2 separate regions of the Homo sapiens genome follow, and region 1 is linked to region 2. Evidence: fine-mapped QTL for protein levels in blood plasma. A gene starts in region 2. The other region holds a variant in brackets. All regions are shown on one strand. Distances are between the middles of the regions. Region 1 overlaps SELP (selectin P). Region 2 holds the start of SELP (selectin P).

The links. PIP is the posterior inclusion probability: the model's chance that the variant is causal. Sun 2018 read protein levels with aptamers (SomaScan).
Region 1: its variant is fine-mapped to the plasma level of the SELP protein (Sun 2018, PIP 0.95). The variant lies in the coding sequence of SELP. If it changes the protein, the assay may bind it differently, which can mimic a change of level.

Annotation. Positions count from the first base shown.
Region 1 is chr1:169,586,547-169,594,510 of GRCh38, forward strand. SELP (selectin P) reads right to left here. Exons shown (of 17, transcript NM_003005.4): 14 at 7,059-7,178; 15 at 4,880-4,910; 16 at 3,601-3,656; 17 at 2,303-2,915. The coding sequence ends at 3,602. Among named protein-coding and RNA genes, the nearest start is that of F5, 4.0 kb to the left of the region's middle. RefSeq lists an enhancer at 1-410. The variant C/T (reference allele first, on the strand shown) is at 7,120.
Region 2 is chr1:169,620,747-169,637,200 of GRCh38, forward strand. SELP (selectin P) reads right to left here and starts at 9,378. Exons shown (of 17, transcript NM_003005.4): 1 at 9,326-9,378. The coding sequence starts at 9,328.

The sequences.
Region 1 (7,964 bases), 38 kb before region 2:
CCTCTGGCTCTCACTCCCTCCGCTTTTTCTGGGGCTTTTCCTGGCAGGGGTTTGGTGAGATCACAGCTCCCAGTGACCAGAGGTATTAGGGAGAGCAACCAAACTAGTGACTGTTTTACTGCAGGTGAAGAAGGGGCAGAGATCAGAGGCTCTAGCAGGCGGGACAATGCCCAGGGATTCATGAGCCGGACAAAGCTGTATCCCTCCATTTCCACCTGCCAACACCACGGAAGCAGTCGTCCGTTACCACTGACCTGAGGCCTGCCTGGGTCCAAGCTCACACTTGGAGAACCTTCTGTGCAGTGCAGTGGCACCCAACCACCTTAAGCAGATGGCTCCCCTTTTAATCTGAGGAAAAGAGTATTGTGCCCTGTTACTGGGCACTGAAACACTATTTTCAAGTGGTGAAGAAGCAGGGAACAAACACATGGACAAGGCCTACTGCTCTGAATCGCCTTCCTGGCCTCTATCAAGGCACAGTTCTGCCTTGATAAGGGCCTGTCGCCAGCTAAGCTGCAGCATAGCAGCGGGCTTGAAGAGCTTGGCTGAAAAAAATCAGTTGTCCAGATTTCAGTTTCACTTACTAGCTGTGTTGTCTTGGGCAAGTTACTGTACCTCTCTGTTCAGTTTTGACATCTGTGAAATAAGGATGACAATAATAATTTTTCCTGATAGGGTATGTTGGGAGGATAAAATGCTACTGTAAACTATAGTTCCAGCACTTAACACACAGAGGCTAGGCGCAGTGGCTCACGCCTGTAATCCCAGTACTTTGGGAGGCCAAGGCGGGTGAATCACCTGAGGTCAGGAGTTCAAGACCAGCCTGGCCAACATGGTGAAACCCTTCTCTACTAAAAATATAAAAAATTAGCCGGGCGTTGTGGTGGACACCTGTAATCCCACCTACTCGAGAGATTGAGGCAAGAGAATTGCTTGAACCTGGAAGGTGGAGTTTGCAGTGAGCTGATATCATGCCATTTTACTCCAGCCTGGGCAACGAGAGCAAAACTCCATCAAAAAAAAAAAAGAAAGAAAGAAAAAGAAAGAAAGAGAAAAAGAGAGAAAGAAGGAATCACAAATTTATTATTATGATCATATTTTCCTGTCTCCAGGACCCCTTGTATTCTTGTTTTTCTTGAAGGATCTGACTGTTTCACAGCACCTTAAATCTTACTTTGCTATTGATAGAGAATCTGCGAATTATATTGTCTGAGGCATCATAATGACTTGTCCTGGGTTCCCTGTATCTGCATGGCTCCAGGTTTCTGTCTTATGCTTTATGCATTCAGTACATTCAATAAATTGTAATCTGGCACCTCACATGAGGTCTCTGTTAATGATATCAGGCTCATCAACAGCCTCTTCCTCCCTCCCCACTCCCCCCAATATTCTGTCTTTTCTCCTGTGCTGATATTATTGCACCAACTTAGAATGCCCATTTTCTTCCTCTTTGCTGGGCCATTCTTTACAGTCCAGAGTTCTGCCTATCTCCCAGATTCTGGGCTCAAATTGGCTTTTCCATTTTATGAACTATTACAACACTATTCAAATTATATAATCATGTTAATTACCTTTTGTTATTCCATGCAGGTATCTATTGTCTCCCTAACTGAACAGTTGCTTACACTTCTTTATCTACAATATTATCAGTGTCTCCCAAAGTTGGCAGACCATCAGAATTCCCAGGGGAACTTTTACAAAATGTAGATTCTGACTCAGGAAACAGGGTTGAGACCAAAGTCCTAGAACACCTAGCCTACTGATTGACATTTAAATAAGCAGTCAGAGATGCTACTGGCAGTGTATCAGAGAAACGTTTTGAAAGCACTGTGTCCCTAAATCCCAAGGTTACTACCAGAATTGTTGCAACATTATTGTAACCTTTGAGTAGGCTGCTTTTTTATTTGCATGTTTGCTTATGTATATACAGTGTACATGACATATTTATTTAATTACATTTTACAGAGACAAGATGACTACTATAATTTTTGGCTCTCTATTTTTTTTAACATCAGTTCCAGATAAATACTATATAACTTTCAATGACCTATTTATTAAACATGGGATTTAAAGAACATGTAAAACACATTTGTTCTTCCCTGTAAAATATTAAGGTGATGAAGAATTTTTCCATTTCTCTGATTTTCTCTTGCAGTGTAGGGTGTGCGATACATATTTGCTGACTGAATGAATGGTTGAGGTGTAAATAGGACAACCATAATTGTGTGTTATTACACTGATGGTAAACAATGTGATGTATACAGACCTTACTGAACAAACCATAAAATAGAGGAACACGGCATTTGGGGAAAATTCTTTTAATTACGCATTTGAATATTGGTCTTTGGGTCATTTGAGGGACAGTGACTGGTGGCAGGAAGGTCCACGGTGACATGTGGCCTTCTAGCTTGATTCTTGGCCTTCTGCAGCCTCTGGTGCCATCCAGAGGACTCTCTGGAAGCCTCAGAGCAGAGGTCCAAGAGGCCTCATCAACAGCAACCACTGGAGACTCCAGAAGATGCTACAGGAATTTCTTCCAATTAGAGATGCCACCTGCTTTCCAACAAAGTGGAGAAAACCTTCCTTCAATCAAAAAATAAAGAGGTATTTTTATTTCTCCACAGTCTGGTCTTCTTGTGAGTCAGATGCTCCAGTCTCTTTGGTTCACTGGTATTTCAAGTAACAGGTGAGTCAAAGCACAGAGACTACTGCAGAAACATTTGCTCCTGGCTTCTGTGGCTTGTGTTACAGGAAGAGAAGAGGTGGGACAGGAAGGGGTGGTAGGTTGAGAATTTGAGATTGTACCACAATCCCAAACTCAGGAAACAGGGTTGGTCCAGAGCGGGTCCAACAGGCTGGTCCAGAGCTAATCTAAGGTAATTCCATGTCTTTGATTCATGGGTGTTTATGGAAACCTGCAGCAAATGCATTATAGTTAAGTCCAGTGTAGCAGGAAACTTGATGTTCACAACAGGATCATATGGAGGCTGAATGAGGAGACCAGGAAAAGGACAGGTCTCTGGAAATGAGACCAAAGAAATTTAAATAATTATCATTTCCTTAAAAAAATAAAAGAAAGAAAAAAATTGCTCATCATATCTACACCCTGAGGCGCAGCATAATCTTTTCTTTCTAGATTTCGAATATTCTGCCATTCAGGCTTTTTGTAGGACACTCAACTACCCACTTTTTGGGAGAGGGATAGCATCAGATTATTTTTGTTTTTCCAGCAGGTAGCATAGGGAATTGACTCCATAACAGTTCGTAAACATTTTTCAGCAGTCCTGACTTCTGCTTTGCAGGCAAGGCCACATCATCACCACCTAGCAGTTAATAATGGAAATGTTACACATCCTGAAATAAGTTATGTCTTGTTAGGACATTTCTGTCCTGGAGGAAATGAAAATCCTTTTGTGAACTCTTTTGTAACTCCATTGTCATACCTGTGTCCTACTGCCAACACAATTTCCTTCATGCCTGAAAATTTAATACATACTTAAAATTTAATATATGATTATGTAAAGAAAAGTTAAGCTTTATAGTCTTCCATTTTTCCCTAGTGTTCTATTTCCTTCAAAAATATCTTTATAGGGATCTTACCTTAAGGACTCGGGTCAAATGCAGCGTTTGTAAAAACTCCATATGTTCCTAGGTGGCTAAAGAACAGAAACACAAGGATGGCAACAATATACTGCTTAGTTCTCGACAACACAGTCCAACACATAGTATTTCCAGAAACCACAAATTACCATCCACCCTTGGAATTCTGCTTTAGAAAGGAAAGAAAAATAAATGCCAAAGAAATATTCGATATCCCACTTACCAGCTCTGGGTAATTTGCATTGCATTTTGCACCCACACTAAGTTATTGTTCATGCTTTATGTACTGAATACCTGTTATACCCTCTAAGTTGCTGCAACCTCTTCTAGGTGACAAGAGGTAGTTACAAAATTCTTGGCATTAACACTTGATAATCTAACGATAGTTTTCAAAGGGTGCAATATGACCCCTAGGGGTGTTTTTTGATTTTTATAACCAAGAGTTCTTCCGATATTGAGTGGGTATGGGGCAAGGGTGCTGGATGTCTACGACAATAGAGTTCATATAAGGATTTCCATGTCCTCCAGGACGGAAATGTCTTTAAAAGATATCCAGCACCCCTGCCTCCTGCCCACTCAATGTCAGTAGAACTCTTGTTCATTACAAAAATAAAAAAATACCCTTGGGGGCATACTGTCCCTTTTTGAAAACTATTGCTAGATTATAAATAGCAAGGGGTACAGGACACAAAAGAATTGTCCAACATCCCACATAACTTTGGAATATCTGCTCGATATTCATACAGGTTAAAAATCTCTGAGCCTGGAACTCAAGCACTTTACATGTAAATATTAAGCATTTTTTTGCATCTTTAAAATGCAATTGCCATATGAATCAAAGGACAATTATCACAGGTTTTCAGACTCTTTACCGGAGTTGTTCACCATGTTGAAAAATTAGGCTGGTGTTGGCCACAGTTCTAATGCTCTTTGAGTCACTAATACAACATTCCCCCATCAGTCCACCTGCGTGGGCGTTGCTTTCCTAGTGATTCTGTGGAAGGTGCACGCTTCTGATGACCTCATTGCATCTACTGGCACAGCGCCTAAGTTTTTGCATCTTGTTTTTATTATAAATTACTTTTCATTTTATTCCTACTTTATATTTTAATTAGAATATTTGTTATCTGTGTATTTTACTTCAGAGTAGAAAAGAAGACATTGCAAAAGACATTGTAAAAAGGAGGCAGGCATTGCATGTAATCATTCTGACATATTACAGTGAATTATAAAGTTAAGGTAGCAAAATTTACTCAATCATAAAACATTTCTACCTTACCTGTGAGGATTCAAGGGGCATTTCCCATCATCTAAAATCAGCAAGAAGACAAGAATGAATGATTAAAAAAAAAAAACAAGATGAAAGAGAGGGTCATTAAGGATAGAAATTACTGGGGAAAACCAGTAGACTGATTTTCAGGAGGGCTCATTATAAGGGGAATATTGGGAACAGTTTCTCCCTGAAAGGTAGAAAGTGTTTTAGGCTAAATTAAACATTCGACAATATTTAACTCCAGAGTCCTGTCACTTTCTTCCTCCTTCCTTTCAGTAAATACATAAATCAATTTCTTTTGAGGGCATCTTGTGTCACTTGCCCTCAGCCCTTAGCTGAGCAAGCTAATCACATACATGAATCCAAACCAACAGAACAGTGGATGTTTTTCCTCCCTGGTAGCATATTTTTATCCAAATAACAGACTCTCATAGTTGAATTTTCAGCTATGGCTGCAGCATTTTCCTCTTATTTGGCCATAGAAAACTTCAAAGCCTAAAATCAAATTGGGAGAAGCTGAGGAAAAAAGCTCCCATCCCCAACAAATGAATGTATTTATTATTAAAAATATTGGGGCATGAGTGGCCATTTGTCCTTCTCCACTGTTAGAGGGTCCTCTGGAAATGTCTCAAAGTCAAAGAAAGGACTTGGGGGAAACATCAAGATTAGAGTGATTCCTACATGATCATAGAGATTAAGGTCTAGGAGCTCTTGCCTCTGCCTTCTGGGTTTGGTTGAGCAAGCACACATTTTGCATGGAGGGATTCACTGTAGCTCTCAGTACATCTCTTTGGTATTGAAGCAGAGTATTGACCTTTGTCTATTGTCTTAGCCACTCACAGGAGAGTATATGAAGGAAATTTGGAAAAACAGCCTCAATGTTTTGGTAGCATTGTAAATGGAGAAAGAATAAGAGTAAGGAACACGTGGTTTTGCCTCTGAGCAGTTAAGAATAGGTGTTGAGACCTATGTCAACAATAGAGAAATTCAATGAGATCTCTTTCAGATATTTTAACATAGCCACTTTCCATTACCTTGATTTGAGCAATTAATGGTCTCTCTGATGCCCCCAGTTACTTTCTATGAGGAGTGATGAAGAAGAGCCCCATTAGGTTATAAACAAAACTTTATGAACTTATAGGCAGGCTAAGTGTCTGGAGAAGATTGAGAAAGGATGTTTTAAACCTTAAGAGATGGGATGTTCCCATCTTTAATTCCTAGACTAAAGTTCTTTTTCTGATGAACAGTCTGATGAACACAGTTTCCCTTACAGAGAGTTTTCATCTATTTGGTCTTCTCTGTTTAAATCCTGCATCAACTTTACAAATTTTCAGGAGAAAAAGCAAATCTCTTAGCTTATCACACCAGGTCACCAATACAGGGGCAGCTTCTTCTGCCCCTAACTTCATCTCCTGCCTCCTCCATAATCCCCTTTTGATTCAGATGCACTGAACTGCGAAACATACCATCTTCTCATTGATTTTACACTTTCATGTCTTTCTACATGCCATTTTCTCTGATGGAACTCTATTTCCATTTTCCCCTTGGCTAAATGCCTCTCATTCTTCAAAGCTAAGCTTGAAAAAGGCTTTCTGACCTGCCAGTCTGGTTTAGGCATCCCTAGTCTATGTTCTAATAATACCTAGGTTGTATTTGTGTCCTAACACACTTACTACACTTCACTACCGGCACTGATTTCACCTGTCTCCCCTACTGGATTTTTCCTTCCTTAATATCAGAAACCATCATTATGAGTCTCACACTCTAACAGAGTTGATGAATAAATGACTGCTACATGAAGAAATGAGTGAAGTCAGGAAGCATAACACCTTTCTAATTAGCTTTAGTGATAGCCTAGGGTACTTAGACCAGAGGCCCCAAATGCAAAACTGCAAAGTAGCCTCATTTGAATTTTGGGAGAGAGCTTTTGAAAAATTCAGATTTCCACACCCACTACCAAGTCTCCCCATAGAAGGATCTATATTTTTAGGAAGTTCCCTAGGTGATTCTAATGGACAATCAGTTCTCAAGATCACTTATCTTGGCTTTATTTTCTTTTAATGCAAATGTTTTCCAACATGAACTACTGAAGTTGTGGTTTTTGCCTCCCCACCCTAAATTACATAAATCAATTTCTTTTGATTTATGTAACCAAGATGCAAAGAGAAGACTCTTTCCTATTTACCTTTTTGTCTGAAACGCTTTCTTAGCAAAGCCAGGAGCGTCCCACCCATTATCAGACCTAT[C/T]GTAGAAGCCACCGCTCCACCAAAGTAAGTCAGGGCTTCCTGGATAGTCAATGGTCCTGCTACAAAACAAACACACACACATGCAAGACATAAGAAGTGTATTATGCAAAAGACTAGTCTTTCTCTCCCAGAAAGTTTTCAAGAACTCTAAGATGTGCGATCAAGTAGGATCACCAAAGGTCCTGGGAATGCTGACAAGCTAACATGAAAGAAGATCTGGAATTCATAAATCCACTGCAACAGAATGGGAAGTGGGGCCTTATTTTATTCCTAAGGCTTAAATATAGACTGTAATTTCCAAAGGAATCAGGGTGAGGACCCAATAAAAGAAATTAAATTGTAGACACAAGAAGCCTATACATGTAAGTATGGGCAAATAAAATAAAAGTGGGGCCTTAATTTATTCCTAAGACTTAAATATAAACTGTAATTTCCAAAAGAATTAGGGTAAGGTCCCAATAAAAGAAATTAAATTGTAGACATAAGAAGCCTATACATGTAAGTTTAGGCAAATAAAATAAACTGTGCATAATTTTTTGGCAAAGATTCAGTTATGTAACAAAAGGCAGTCAGGACAAGCTATGAGGGGAAAAAATAGGGGGCTGAAATATACCTTGCAAACAGATGGAATTTAATTAAGGAAGATCTGCTAGGAGGTTTTTAGAGTTAGGTGGTAAGCAAAGGTCTTCTGAGATAATAAATTAGAAATCTGCATGAAATAACTCCCAGTTTAAAACATTTTGAAACTTCAAGGTCTGTTAAACAGAGATTATAACGAAGCAAAAGGTTTCATTTCACAAACTGAACACTGAAGAGGAGGGGTGATTACCTACACAGTCACTGGG
Region 2 (16,454 bases):
GTCATGCCCCAGTGATGGATGATGTAGGGTGCATGGGACGGTGTGGGGTTGTGTGTGTGTGTGTGTGTGTGTGTGTGTGTGTATGTGTCATGCCACAGTGATGGATGATGTAGGCTGCATGGGACTGTGTGGAGTTGTGTATGTATGCGTGTGTCATGCCCCAGTGATGGATGATGTAGGGTGCATGGGACAGTGTGGGGTTCTGTGTGTGTGTGTGTGTGTGTGTGTGTGTGTCATGCCACAGTGATGGATAATGTAGGGTGGATGGGACAGTGTGGGGTTCTGTGTGTATGTGTGTGTCATGCCACAGTGACGGATGATGTAGGGTGCATGGGATGGTGTGGAGTTGTGTGTGTGTGTGTGTGTGTGTGTGTCACACCCCAGTGATGAGATGTAGGGTGCATGGGACTGTGTGGGGTTGTGTGTGTGTTCGTGTGTCATGCCCCAGTGATGGATGATGTAGGGTGCATGGGATGGTGTGGAGTTGTGTGTGTGTGTGTTTGTGTCACACCCCAGTGATGGATGATGTAGGGTGCATGGGACTGTGTGGTGTTGTGTGTGTGTTCATGTATCATGTCCTGGTGATGGATGATGTAGGGTGCATGGGACAGTGTGGGATTGTGTGTATGTGTGTGTCACACCCAGTGATGGATGATGTAGGGTGCATGGGACAGTGTGAGGTTGTGTGTGTGTGTGTGTGTGTGTGTGTGTGTGTGTCACGCCCAGTGATGGATTATGTAGGGTGCATGGGACAGTGTGGGGTTGTGTATGTGTCACGCCCAGTAGGGTGCATGGGACAGTGTGGGGTCATGTGTGTGCATGTGTTCATGCACTTTTGACTACAGCCTGACCAGATACCAGGGAGAACTCAACTCAAACCAGTTAATGTGTCCCAGAGAGTAGAGTTATCTCATAAGCCTAGAACTTTTCATCTGGGAGCTTCTGAATCTTGACTTTGGTAAGTAGGCATATTTTGTGTTCTTATAAGCTGCTGATCTCTGCAGGACCTATGATTAAACACTGAGAGTATCATAACGTTATGATTTACAGCTGTTTATTTGCACAAAATGCAGAGTGATCGATAACCCTTTGGTGCGAACCTAACCCCACTGCTTTCTCTGAATTGTGTTGTGTCACAAGCTGTTCTTCCTATCACATTTCAAAATGCACCATTCCAAATGCTGAAGTGGAATTCTTCAAACCAGGATAAGGCTGACTTCCCAAGGGGTTCACAAGCAAAGAGAGTGTTAATTAAATCTGTATTCAGATTCTCAACTTTCACATATATACTTTCTTAAAAACAATCTGCCTAAAATACACCTTTCTCCCACTTTATAAGAGAAAAATTATACCTTTTACTAATTTCTTATTTATTCCAGAGCTTTGCCTTTGGATATAAATACATTCGTATGCCAGAGATGATTCGAAATATTGGTATAGGTATTAAGAATTTGAATATTGTAAATGATATTGCAGCAAATCCGTTTTCAAGTCTAGTGATTTCCATTTATTTCCTTTCATCAGCTTTGAGGGAGCACCCGATTAAGTTGTCAAGTCTGACTAAATTTTGATAGTAAATCACTATATAATTTGGGGCATATAACTTGGAAGGACTTCAAGGAATTGAGACATTGCTATAATAAAACTTCTAATTCCATTTACTTATTCATATGAATGAAGTTTCTCAATGTTTAAATCCTTGAAAATGAAATATGGGAATAATATTGATGCCAAACTTGTCTAATTTTGTTGATAAGTAATATTCATTCATGGATATATGAACAAATGAGGGAAAGCTCCTCCTGTCTTAGAGATGAATCTTTAATAGCAATTTAAATATAAAGGTTTAAGTTACTTGTCAAAACTTGCAGTATATTTACTTTATTTAATTGTGTACTGAAAGTAGTTGTCATGCTAACTCAATAGAAAAGAAAAACATTTTAACACATAGAGACTTACAGTTGTAGAAAATTGAAATTTTATATTTTTATTTTGCAAAGAAGTATAATAATCAAGAAAATACTTTAAGCTTAAAATGTGTAATCTTAGGCTAAATACTGTAGAAGTGGGATAGAAATAACTATTCAAGGAGAGAAAAATGAATAATATAAAATTTCTTAAGAGCCTGCTTGTGGTCTTTTAAGTGATGAGGATTGCAGATCATGCTAGTACTTTATTCCATTGGATAAACTTTAAGAAATTATGTAACAATTTTATTTTTACAGTCTAATTTTTGTAATACACTGGAAAATCCAATCTTCTTTTGCTTTTAAAATTTGGGATAAAAAATTGTAGCTTTCCACTTAGAAAGGTGTAAGAGGTAACATAGTGTTCCAGGATATTTTTGGAGGTATAGGAGCAAAAATATTGCTGCTGAAGAGCACAACTCTGCAGCCTTCATGAAGGGGACCTGAGTGCTTGCCTTTGAACCTGGGCTTTGCTCTATTCAGACAGATTGCAGAAGGAGTGCAACGATTTTAAATTTAGTGGTACTCTTCCTGTGGAAGTGGTTTTCTCCCTGAACAGAGTATTTCTAGGGATTTCCCTGGCTTTGGGGCCAGCTCACAAGAGTGTGTAGGGCGAAGGAGTCGGTGAGGCTCCCAGTCTCCCATCACAGTGGCCAACCCTACCCACTGTTTCCTGCTTTGACTTGTTTGTTTAAACTTTTAAATAAGATTTGGTTTAAACAAAATTTCCAAAAAGAGATGTTTCCCATTTTAACCTGTTTGTTTGTTTGTTTGAACTTTTTTTAAGCAAAATTTCATCAGCAAATTCTCTACCACACAAGATAAAACAAAGTGAGAGAGAGCGAGACAACTTGTTTTAAACATTTGAAGGTTTTAGAGGACTGGTACAGTGCTTTTGATGAAGGCACAACATCTAAGAAAGGAAAATGCAAGTCAGTGTGCATCCCCTGCTTTAATCTGACATACTTTTCTGTTTCTATGCATCACCAAATACCAAGATTCACCTCTTACAGGTTATTTCAGAGCTATAGGAGAACATAAAGGTCACTTCCAAGCCAACTTAGCATTTATCTGCTGTTCTGCAGGAAGTCTTTCAGACTTCGAATGCCTAAGATGGGGCAGCCACCACTCCCCACCACTGAGACTCAGTGAGCGTAAATGATTTGCCCAAGCTTGCTCACATGAATGTGCATAGGGTTAACACAGTTATTCTTATTCTTCCAGGGCTTATGAATTTTGAAAATCTGATAAAAGCCGTGGTCAGATTTCTTCAAAACAAATGCATGCTTGCAGTAGTTTAGAGAATCTCAGATGGTTCATGACCTACTAAGTCTGTCCATGTTTAATGTGGCCCAAGTTCAAGATTCTGTGTTAACTGTAAGGCAACTGATAGGGATTTTGTGTGGAGGTATGGAGAATGGATGATGTTTAAAAATCTTCTTTGAGTAACAGTTTTCCTCTGAAACCTGCTTGGGGTGGGCAGGCCTTCTCATACCTGCTCCTACTCTGCATTATAGTCTGCAGGATGCTGCTCTGTCCTGTGTTACTAAGCAAGTTAAATACTAAAACAAGAGGAAATTCCTCTCTAGAAGCATCCACATGCTCTGCTAGTCTTTAATGTTCTCTGGAAGGCTGGTTCAACTGGAAGTTGCTGGAAAGGAGTCAGAGACTGGGTCATTAGAATAACATCCTGTGCCTGTGTAAGCCTTCATTAAGTACCATGATTATCTTTAATTTTACTTTAATAAAGAACTGGGCTGGTGCAGTGGCTCATGCCTCTAATCCCAGCACTTTGGGAGGCCAAGGTGGGCAGATCACTTGAGGTCAGGAGTTCGAGAACAGCCTGGCAACATGGTAAAACCTCGTCTCTACTAAAAATGCAAAAATTAGCCAGGCATAGTGGCACATGTCTGTAGTCCCAGCTACTTGGGAGGCTGAGGCAGGAGAATCGCTTGAACCCAGAAGGCAGAGGTGGCAGTGAGCCGAGACACTCCAGCCTTGGCAACAGAGTGAGACTCTTTCTCAAAAAACAAAACAAACAAACAAGCAAAAAAACTAATAATGATTGCAGGGTGAAGAGAAAAGCAGAGAGAAAGTGGAAGAAGCAAATGCCTTGACCTAACTTTTCACACAAGGAGGTACCAGAGGCTAGTAGGTGTCCCATGGCTTGCCACGTTCCAGGTGGCTTACAAAGTTGGCAAGAATAGTGCCACAGAAAGGAGATCTTGTTCTTTTTGTCTACATTGTAGACCACAGCTTTGTGCTTTTAGAAAGGCGGAATCAAACAATGTCCCTCCCTTGACCCTTTGTCCTCCTGCCCACATCTGCCTGTTTCTCTCCTTCCTCTTATAGCTAAACTTTCTTAACTTCCTTGCCTCCCCCTTACTCTCCAGCCCACTGCCCGACCATCCTATCAAAGTGTCCCTGCAAACTTCATTGCTGACATCCTCATTACCAAACCAAATGAAGACTTTCCACCCTTATCTTCCTTGACCTTTCTGTAGCAGTAAATACCACTACTTCCTTTTGCCTAAAATGCTTCCCTTAGCTCTTCTGTTGTTCTTCTGCTCTAATGTTTGAGAAACTTTTCTGAGTCTTCTTCTGAATCTACCTCAATCCTCTGCCTTCCCTTGCAGAGGTAAGTGTTTCTCTAGGTTCCCACCTCCATGGCCCTATTCTCTTCTCATTCTTCTGCTTTCCTGGGAAGTAAAGATGACCTCCTTATGGTCATCTGTTTCCAATGTCCTCTAATCAGCATCTCCGTTTCTGAATATTCTCTTGAGCAGGAGGTCCACAATTTAAATGCGCAACAAACATGTGAGCATACAGCTGAGGAAGCTACTGACAGAGGCTTCTCAAGGGCAAGGACTATTACTTACTCAGGTCTGAATCCCCAGCCATGGTAGGGCACATACTCAATACTCAATAAACATTTTATGGATAAATATATGAATGAATAATGGCAGAGGAATAACTGAAAGTAAGACAAAAATATGCTAAATAAGAAAATGTTGGAAAAATACATAATAATTATAACTGAATGCATTACTTTTACAGTAGTGATAATAGCTAAGTGAACAAATAAAATGGTGAAAACAGACATAATTCCAGTCCTCATAGAATGCACATTCTATTGGTAGAGAAGACAATGAAACAAATACTAATAACTACACAACAGTACTAAACAAGTAAACATGAAAAATATTAACAGAATATAGCCATAAGTGCTAGGTAGGAAATGAAACTTATGTGATAGAATGACTGTGTCACTATGTTGGTCAGGAACGTCAGGGAAGACCTCTTTAATGAGATAATGTTTAAGTGGAGAGAAGAATGACTGCAAGAAACCAGCCAGTGAGAAGCAGGAAGAAGAGCATTAAAGGAAGAAGAAAAAGCTATTTCAAAGGCCTTAAGGTGGAAGCAAACTGCAGTGTGTTCAAAGAACATGAAGACATTAGTGTGGCCAGAATGGAATGAGCAATGGAGAGAAAAATACGAGCCGGGGGTAGTGACAGATCACATCGGGCTTTGGGATCCAAAACAAGGGGATGAGATTTTATTCTAAGTGCAATGATAAGCCAACGGAAGCTGGGCACGGTGGCTCACATCTGTAATCCCAACACTTTATGAGGCCAAGGCAGGCAGATCCCTTGAGGTCAGAAGTTCAAGACCAGCCTTGCCAACATGGCGAAACCAACTCCACTAAAAAATACAAAAATTAGCTGGGCATGGTGGCGCATGCCTGTAATCCCAGCTACTCAGAAGGCTGAGACAGGAGAATCGCTTGAACCCAGGAGACAGAGGTTGCAGTGAGCTGAGATGGCACTACTGCACTCCAGCCTGCTGAAGATTGGGAGATCCTAGAGGTTAACTGAAAAGGTAGTTTGAGACCATATCTTGTGGGTCACAAATACCAGTTGGCAGAAGGGATACTTCTGAACAGAGAAGTATCATGAACACATGCACTTAATGGTGGTATGATTTTTTTTGTGGGGCTGGGGGACAGGGTCTTGCTCTGTTGCCCAGGCTGAAGTGCAGTGGCATGATCTGGGTTCACTGAAACCTCCACCTCCTGGCCTCAAGTGATCTTCCCATCTCAGCCTCCTGAGTAACTGGGACTACAGGCATGCATCACCACACCCGGCTAATTTTTTGTAGAGATAAGTTCTCACTATATTGCCCAGGCTGGCCTGGAGCCCCTGGGCTCAAGCAATACTTTTTCTTTGGCCTCCAAAAATGCTGATATTATAGGGGTGAGAGTAGTGCGATACTTTTTTTTTTTTAAATGAGTTACAATCAGGGAGATTGCACTGCAAAAGAAGAGGCTATTGCAATGGTCCCAGTGAGAGTTAAAGAGGGACAGGTTTGGTCTGGCATCAGTGGGAATGCAAATAGGGGAGGTGAATATGAGAGTTGTTGAGGATGCAGAACTATACAACTTGTTGGTAGCAAAGCCCAGATGTTACAAGCTATTACAGCTAATACATTAGTTCCCTTATGTTTCTGGACGGTGGTGGTGTTAGTGGTGTGGCACAGATATTGGTAGCCCAGCTTAGGGGTGGAAAAAGAAATACAGTGAGAAAAGAGGTTGTCTCTAAGCCAAAGAGCAAATTATGAATATAGACAAGAAGGGACCCAGGACATCAACACTTAGAATCCAAGCATATATTTAATTTAGACTACCAATTGCCATTATTTTGAGTAAAATATTAGCATTAAAAATAAAGTACGACACTTAAAATTTTTTAAAAAGTCTATTGGATCAGAGATGAGTTATATCTCTACAAATAGTGAGGATTTGCTCTGTATTTGACTTCATGAAGTTTCTGATTTACTTTTTAATCAAAAAGATTAGACACCTTGAAGACAATATAATGAATGTCATTTATAAAACCACTGTGTGCCTACTCTCTAGGTTTAGGTCCAGGGTTTTTTCTAAACACAGTTTTTTATGTAGTAAGTCATTTTGATTTTTGAGGATTTGATCAATAAGCTTCTACTTAAAGATCTCTGAAGATGCACATTCTAAGAGCTGGTGGCTAGCCCAGGAGAGTCTGAACTATTTTAGTTGCATTTTGAAAAACAGGTAATGAAAAGAAGAGTAAGGACTGGAAGCCACATAAGGTGGTTAAAAGGTATAAATGGACGAAAATCCAGACCTGCTCCTTAGCCCACTAAAACTTTTTTTTTGTTTTGTTTTTGAGACAAGTCTTGCTCTGTCACCCAGGCTGGAGTTCAGTGGTGTGATCTCAACTCACTGCCACCTCCACCTCCTGGGTTCAAGAGTTTGTCCTGCCTCAGCCTCCTGAGTAGCTGGGATTACAGGCACATGCCAACATGCCCAGCCAGTTTTTGTAAGTTTAGTAAATATGGTGTTTCACCATGTTGGCCAGGCTGCTCTTGAACTCTCGACTTCAAGTGATCTATGCGCCTCGGCCTCCCAAAGTGCTGGGATTACAGGCATGAGCCACTGAGCCCGGCCATAGCCCGCTAAAACTTTGACAAACATCAGTGCAATTTAACTATAAGTTCCCAATCAAGAGCTACTCCTCTGAGATCTATCTGATTGAAAATACCCCACCAGAAAAACCTTATCCTCATTTTCTCAGGTCCTAAAAGTTAATTAAAGCCACTCTCTGAACTTGAAGCAAAATTTACACAGGCAGTTTGAGGTTTCTGAATCTTTGGGGCCAAATGTGCTCAGAGGAAAAGGAAGAGGTCTTGTCTTTGAAATATTAAAAACCATTCCAGGGCTGGGGCCTTAGCACTTCGCTGTAGAGCTCAAGCCTAATTTCAGGGTACCAAGAGAGGGGCTTCTGAACATAAAGCCCAGGAGGCAATCGAGAAGGGTTCTTACCCTGGGATCCACATGGAGGTCTGGGAACCTCCTGTGGTTGTCTCTAAAGGTTGGTGTTTATGTCGATGTTTTTGCTTTCATCTGGGAAAGACAAGTTGTAACTTTCATCAAAATCTCAAAGAACTCTCTGATCCAATAAGTTCATACCTTTGAAATAGAGGAGGATGCCAAGGAGAGTAGAAGGAAGAGAGGAATAACTGCTCATTTAAGTTAACCAATTCAGAAGTATGACATGCAAAAAGACAGGACAAAAGTAATTCATATCCTTAGGTCATTGTGGTTCAAACTTAAGACAGGCTCAAACTCCTTCCTCTTCTCTTTATCATACTCTTATTCCTGTTTTCCCCAACACAGAAACCCACATTATAAGTACTTGAAAAGTGTGCTATAGTAAAGCAAAGCAGTAGGATGAATCAGGTGTATGCGGTACTTTTTTCTGGAGTCCCACAGAAAGGTGCTCAAAAACAGAGACCTGCCTGGTTCCTCCATAGCCACAGACTGCAGGATTTCGGACCCTGGGACTATGTGGGATACTCTTGGAAAGTCTGAGGAAAATTGGAAGTAGCTTAACCATGTGCATTTTATCTAGGTGCATATAACATTGCTGAGTTCAAAATGCCTAGCTATCCTTGGATCTTCCCTGAATTAGAAGTAGCCTAACCACGTGCATCTTATCCATGAGCATATAACATTGCTGAGTTCAAAATGCCTAGCTATCCTTGGATCTTCCCTGAATCCTAAACCCCACTATTCCTAAGAATTTTCTTTTTATTGTAACAATAATGGCTAACATTTACTAATCACTTACTATGTGTCAGGCTCAGATCTGGATGCTTTTCAGCAAAATCTTATTTAATCCTCATGATGAAACTATAGAGTATTATTACTATATCCATTTTATAGAAGAAGAAACTGAGTCATTAACAAGATTGAGTCTTAGGGCAGAAAAGGAAACTATGTGGATATTCCAGATCAGTCCCAGAAGATTCATAGGCTCACAGAAAGAAATGGGAGGGATGGGGATGAGAAACTATTCAATTGTAAGCTTGTCCCAGGGCACCTACCCAGTCTTCCATTTATTCCATCATTTATCCCAGAGAGAAGTACAGTCTTGGAAAATGGGGTGACAGGTTTACCATGATCTATTCTCAGAGAGCCCCTATAAATTCTAGTAGGAGGAACAGCAGCTGCGGAGCCAGAGGACAGGCCCCAGATCCCAACATCATGTAGCCTAACAGTGAAGCTTAGATAAAACACAGCCTCTGTAAACCACGATGGCTTTATTTGTAAAATAGAAATAGCAACCTCAACTCACAAGGGTGTTGGGAGGGTCAAAGTGGACAGCAAGTTTAAAAGTACTCACAAAATCTAATAGGCAATTCAACATAAAACTCCATGGCTATCGCTGTTCCTCACTTTCTGAACCTTTACCTGCCTGACTTTACTCCATACCACTCCAACTCACTTCAACCACTTCCCATGCAGAAAAAAATAAACTCACCATCTCCTCTGTGACTCTGCTGGTTTTCTGCCTTCTGCCCAACCCAGACTGCTTACAGTCTCACTGCCTCCCCTCAGTGTCAGGCTGTTTAGAAAAACAACTTCCTATTCACATTCCAGAAACTCACCACAGCCCTTCCCATGAAGTTAGAATGTTGATAATGCAAGAGTAATGTTGGCAGCTTAGAAATAGTGGTTGCCAAGAGGCAAGGGGTCACCCCCTTCCATGGAAGATGGTCTGGAGGCAGGCGCAAGGTGAATTACTCCTGGATATCCCAGGCTGAGCAATGTGGGAACAGTACACACACAAAGGTTTCCTTGGATTATGATATAAGCTCCAATTTAAAGTAGTACATTTGGAAAACATGCTTTGAATTAATTACAATGTGATTTTCCAGTGCCCATTTTCCAGTAATTATGACATGTCAGTGAATGTTTACTATTCCGGCAGCCTTCTGAGGGAAAGAAGCAAAATTAGTAGCACAAAAAAAAATAGAGAGAAATGGAAAAAGCCACTAACAGTTTTCTGGCGCTTGGGAAATTTTATTGGTAAGTTTCAAAATGACGTATTAAATAGACATAGGTCATGTGAAAGGAATTCTGCTTCTTATATCAGAAATAAAAAGGTATACAAATAGATACCTTTTTATTTTCCTCTTCCCATGGGATGTGTAGGACCAAAAAGCTGTTGGCATAGTGGTTAAGACTTCAGCTGTGCTGTTAAACTGCCCGAGACCCATCCTGGCTCCTCTTCTGGCTATCTACTGGGCAAACTACTTAAGCTCTCTATGCCTCTGTTTCCTCAACTGTAAAACAGAATAACAGAACTTGCCTCACCGGGTTGTTGTAGGATGAAATGAGTTAATATGTACAGAGTGATTGAAATGACACTTGGCCCACAATTGATGCTCAACAAATGTTAGTGATTATTATTACTTTTCAGATTGATCTCAGACAGCAAAATCAAGTATCAAGTATTTAGTTTCAAGTCAGAAAGCCATAACTCCTATTTATACTCTTGGAATTCTATTGTACAGTAGTAGGTATTATTCTTCATTCACTTCATGATGGTTACAGCTTGTAAATAGGCATCTCATGGATAAATTTAAAATGGAATGAAGTAGAAACATTGGAAGAAAGTCTAAAGGTAAAGATGAATTAGGGTATATAAGGCTGCATTTGCACGTTGGAATTTGGGACCAAGAAGAAAAAATTAATTATATAGTAGAAGTAGAAAAGATGGTGAAGGAAATGCTGTTGAAGGAATGACTGTAGGGGAATAAGGGAAACTTAGAGAGAGGAAAAAATGAGGAACTTCTTGGCAGCATGATGCAGTTCAGAGTCCAGACCCTAGAGTCAGACTGCCTGGCTCCACCACCTACCAGCTGTGTTGGGCGTTACTAATCTCCCTATAACTCAGTTTCCTCAGTGATGTGGTTTGGCTGTGTCCCCACCCAAATCTCATCTGGAATTGTAGCTCCCATAATTCCCACAGGTTGTGGGAGGCACCTGGTAGATCATTGAATCATGGGGGTGGTTTCCCCCATACTGTTCTCATGGTAGTGAATAAGTCGCATGAGAGCTGATGGTTTTATAAGGGGAAACCCCTTTTGTTTGGTTCTCATTTCTCTCTCTTCCCTGCTGCCATGTAAGACGTGTCTTTTGCTTTCTACCATGATTGTGAGGACTCCCCATCCACGTGGAACTGTGAGTCCATTAAACCTTTTTTTTTTTAATAAGTTATCCAGTCTCGGGTATGTCTCTATCAGCATCATGAGAACAGAATAATACACTCAGCAATGTGAATAATAAGGATAATAATCACCAAATACATAGACATGTAAGGACCATTAAATGAATTTAATGTGTTTGGAACAATACCTATCACGCTGTTAAGTGTAAGTTTAAGTGTTGGCTATTATTCTATAAGACTTGCCTCCATGTCTTTCTGTTCTTACTTTCACTCACCAGCCCCTCTTTTTGGCATTGCCTCATGTTAGAAAAAATATATATAGTCTCAGATGGGGATGAGGAAGTGTGGTATGTAGACTAGTAGGTTCTTTTTTTGAGACAGGGTCTCACTCTGCGGCCCAGGCTGGAGTGCAGTGGCATGATTACTGCTTGCTCCAGCCTTGACCTCCTGGGCTCAAGCAATTCTCCCACCTCAGCCTCCTGAGTAGCTGGGACTATAGATGTGTGCCATCACTACTGGCTAATTAAAAAAAAAAATCTCTAGAGATAGGGTCTCTCTATATTTCCCAGGCTGGTCTTGAATTCCTGGGCTCAAGTGATCCTTTCACCTCAGCCTCCCAAAATGTTGGGATTACAGGCATGAGCCACCATGCCCAGCCTGGTAGTTTCTTATTTATAATAAGTTTGATATTAATAAGTTCAATTGATCATATGTTTTTAAGTTTGATATTGTTAAATTTTAGTGAATATAAGGAAAGCATAAAAAGATTCCTATGCAGGTGACATTAGCAAGATGGTGGAGTAGGAGATGTCAGCCTTATGCCCCAACAAAAAAACAAACATAGACAGTTATACACAAACCAAAATAGCCCTCACAAGGGTGGGGAGTTGGGGGATGGGGCTCAAGAGCCTGTTAAAGAATTTGGAACAACACAATGGAGAAAAGAAAGAATATCCATGTAGAAGAATCACCGGTGAGACTGGCATATATGAGACACCAGGAGATAGCTACGAATAAAGAAATTTGTAGGCTATCTGTGTCAGTCATGTGACACAGAGCCACTGAGGCCCCCAGTGTCCTGCTCCACAGAGGACACTGGCATCTTTTATCCAACAGCCATTCCCATAGCAGGATGCTAAAAAGGGAAACACAGTTGCACTACCCCTCACACCCCCTCACCAAGAAGCAGCTATTGTTGCACTGCCCCAGGACTGGGGCCAGGGTTACCACCTCTCACAAGTCTATGTGTGTTCCTGATCCCCAAAAGTTGTGGCTGCTCTACAGATATTCACACTCTGGACTGTGGCTCTGTGGCTGCAGTGCACCTCCTCATGTCTCAGACACTGGAGTCACTGCTGTTGTGAACTAGATCTCACCCTGGGACCCCAAGCCAAGTTCTCTCTGTGAAAGTCTTTGCTCCAGACACTAGTTCAGCCACTGTAGAAAGGTAACCCATATTCTCAACTCCAGAGCTGCTGTAGTAATGTGCACACCTGCGCTCCAGACCCTGTCTCTGAGGCTGTACTACACACACCCACACCTCCAACACCAGAGCCACCACTATAGTGAGCTAGTGAACACCCTGGGTCCTAGAGTCAAGGTTTCTCTGTGCCTGTCCATGCTCTAGTCACCAGCTCAGCCACCAAGGAGAGCTAGCCCACACCCTGGATCCTGGAGCCACTGTAGCTCTGCGTATGCATGCAGTAAAGTCCCTGGCTCCTTAGCTGCTTTATAAGTACCTGCATTTTACACACCATTATCAATGTGATAGTAAGTATGCCTGTGCCTTGGGCACTGGTACCATTGCTACAATTGAATCTGGTGCTGTGGTCCCTCCATGCATGCCCATGCTTCAGGCCTTGGCTCTTGGCCACTCCATGGGCACTGTTCATCAGACACCAGTGTCACCACCACCAGGAGCAGGCCTGCAAGTTAGACCTAATTCCAAGAGGGATGTCCTCAGTCATGACTTCCCAGGTGGGGAAAAAAAGAGATATGGAGGACTTGTCACAATTGAAAACCTCAACAGCCTCATTGCCACTGTAGATACCCACAGTGTTGGCCTCTAAGGATCCCTGTAGTATTCACTAACACCAACCTCAGCTGACAGATCTGCATGGAGACCACACAGCTTTGCCCCTACTGAAGTCAGAACTTTTGCATCCCACCCAGCCAGCATCCTCGCATTATTCCACATAAGAAGGTATTTCTCCACCAAAGTCAGCCCATACAGCCTGAAATTGGGGCAGATCCACCAGATGCTCAGACAGCAGTGTAAGGCAGCAAGAAACATGAAAACCCAAATTAAAATATCACCACCTAAGAAACACAATAATTTCCCAGTAGCTGACCCAAAAGAAATGGAGTACTACAAATGGCCTGACAATGGATTCAAGATAATTGTTTTTAAAGAAGCTCAGTTACTTTGAAGCAAACACAGAGAAACAATTTGGTGAAATCAGAGAAACAATAAATGCACAACATAAGAAATGTAACAGAAAGATTGAAATCATAAAAGAAATTGGAGCTGAAAAATATAATGAATGAAGTGAGAAATGCAGTAGAAATCACCAGTAGCAGACTTGATCAAGCAGAAGAAAGAATCTGTGAACTGAAGACAGGTTTTTGAAAATATACAGTGAGAGGAGAAAAAAGAATGAAAAGAAATGATGAAAGCCTACAAGATTTATGGGACAGCATCAAGAGAGCTAACATTCAGCCAGACTCAGTGGCTCATGCCATAATCCCAGCGCTTTGGGAGGCCAAGGTGAGTGGATCACCTGAGGTCAGGAGTCAAGACCAGCCTGACCAACATGGTGAAACCCAGTCTCTACTAAAAATACAAAAAAATTAGCCAGGGATTGTGGCACATGCCTGTAATCCCAGCTACTGGGGAGACTGAGGCAGCAGAATCTCTTCAACCTAGAAGGCAAAGGTTGCAGTGAGCTGAGATCATGCCACTGCACTCCAGCCTGGGTGACAGAGTGAGACTGCATCTCAAAAAATAAAAACAAAAATTAAATTAAAAATTAAAAAAGAGAGCTAATGTTCACATTACAGTAGTTTAAGAAGGAGAAAATAGAGGAAAAGGGGGTCAGAAAGCATATTTAAAGATTGCTAGCTGAAAATTTCCCAAATCTGAAATAAAATATTAATATTCAGGTACAGGAAGCTTAAAAATCTCCAGTCAGGTTCAATCCAAAAAAGACTACACCAAGACATAATAATCAAACTATCAAAAATCAAAGACAAAGACAGGATCCTAAAATCAGCAAGAGAAAAGAAGCATATCACAGACAAGAATTGCAATAAGGCTATCACAAGATTTCTCAGCAGAATGCTTCTAGGCCCAGAGAGAGTGAGATGATATATTCAAAGTGTTGAAAGAGAAAAAACTGCCAACCAAGAGTCCCATCCTTCAGAAATAAAGAAGAGATAAAGACTTTCCCAAACAAATAAAAGCTGAGGTAGTTCATCAACACGAGACCTGCCTTACAAGAAATGTTAAAGGGAATTCTTCAAGCTGAAAGAAAGGGATGTTAATTAATTACATGAAAATCTACGAAAGTATAAAAGTCACAGGTAAAAATAAAAATACAGTCAAATTCAGAATTTTCCAATATTATAATTGTGCTGTATAAATCACTTATATCTTTAGAATGAAGGTTAAAAGACAAAACTATTAAAAATAATTATAACCACAATAAGTTAACAGATACACAATATAAAAGATGTAAATTATAACATCAAAAGCATAAAGTCTGAAAAATATTAAAAACCTATAAAATGTGGAGGGAGAGTAAAAGTGTGGAGTTTTTTTATCCTTGAAGTTAAATTTTATCAGCTTAAAATAGCCTGTTATAACTATTATATGTTTTATCTAAGTCTCACAGTAACTACAAAGCAACAACATCACATTAAAAGGATTATTCACCATGATCATGTGTAATTTACCCCTGGGATGCAAGGATGGTTCAACATAAGAAAATCTATAAATGTGATACACACATTAGCAGAATGAAGGACAAAAGCCATATAATCATCTCAATATATGCAGAAAAAGCATTTGACAAATTTTACCATAATTTTATGATAACAATTGGTAAAGAAGGAATAGTGCCCTCAGGCAATAGGAAGGAATAATACCCTCAGGTGTGGAAAGAAAGTAACTTCAACAAAATAAAGGCCATATACATAAGCCCACAGCTAACATTATAGTCAATAGTGAAAGGTTGAAAGCTTTTCCTGTAAGATCAGGAGCAAGGCAAGGATATTCACTTTTGCCACTTCTATGCAGCACAGTACTGGAAATCCAAGCCAGAGTAATTGGGCAAGAGAAAGAAATAAAAGACATCCAAATCACAAGAACTTGTCTATGATTTCAGACAACATGATCTTATATATAGAAAACCCTAAAACATGATCTTATATGTAGAAAACCCTAAAGACTTCATAAAAAAAAACTTTTAGAACTAATAAATGAATTTAGTATAGTTACAGGATACAAAATCAACATGCAAAAATCAGCAGTGTTTCTCATACACTAACAACAAACTATCTGAAAAAGAAATTAAGAAAATAATCTCATTATACCAGCTACAAAAAAACACACTTAGGAATAAATTTAACCAAAAAGATAAAAGATCTATATACTGAAAACCATGAAACAAATTGAAGAAGACAAAGGAATTGAAAGATATCCCATATTTATGAATTTGAAAAATTAATATTGTTAAAATGTCTATACTACCCAAAGCAGTCTGCAGATTCAATGTAATTCCTATCAAAATTTCAATGGCATTTTTCAGAGAAATAAAAAATAACAATCTTGAAATTCATATAGAACCACAAAAAAATCCTGAATAGCCAAAGCAATCTTAAGCAAAAAGAACAAAGCTAGAAGCAGCACACTGCCTGATTTCAAAATATACTACAAAGCTATAGTAATTCAAACAGCATACTGGCATAAAAATAGATACTTAGACCAATGAAACATAGTAGAAAGATAAGGAATAGATTCATGCATTTACAGTCAATTGATTTTTGATAAAGATGCCAAGAACATTCAATGGTGAAAGGAGGGTCTCTTTAATAAATGATATTGGGAAAACTGGATATCTATATAAAGAAGCTTGAAATTGGATTCTTGTCTCACATACATAAATCAAAGGAAAATGGATTAAAGACTTAAATATAAGTCCTGAAACTATAAAACGATTAGAAGAAAACACACATAAAAAGCTCCATGACAGCTTGCAGTGAGCCGAGATCACGCCACTGCACTCCAGCCTGGGCGACAGAGCAAGACTCCGTCTCAAAAAAAAAAAAAAAAAAAAAGCTCCATGACATTAATCTTGGCAACGACTTTGTATATGACCACAAAAGCACAGGCAACAAAAGCAAAAATAAACAAATGGGATAACTTCAAACTAAAAAG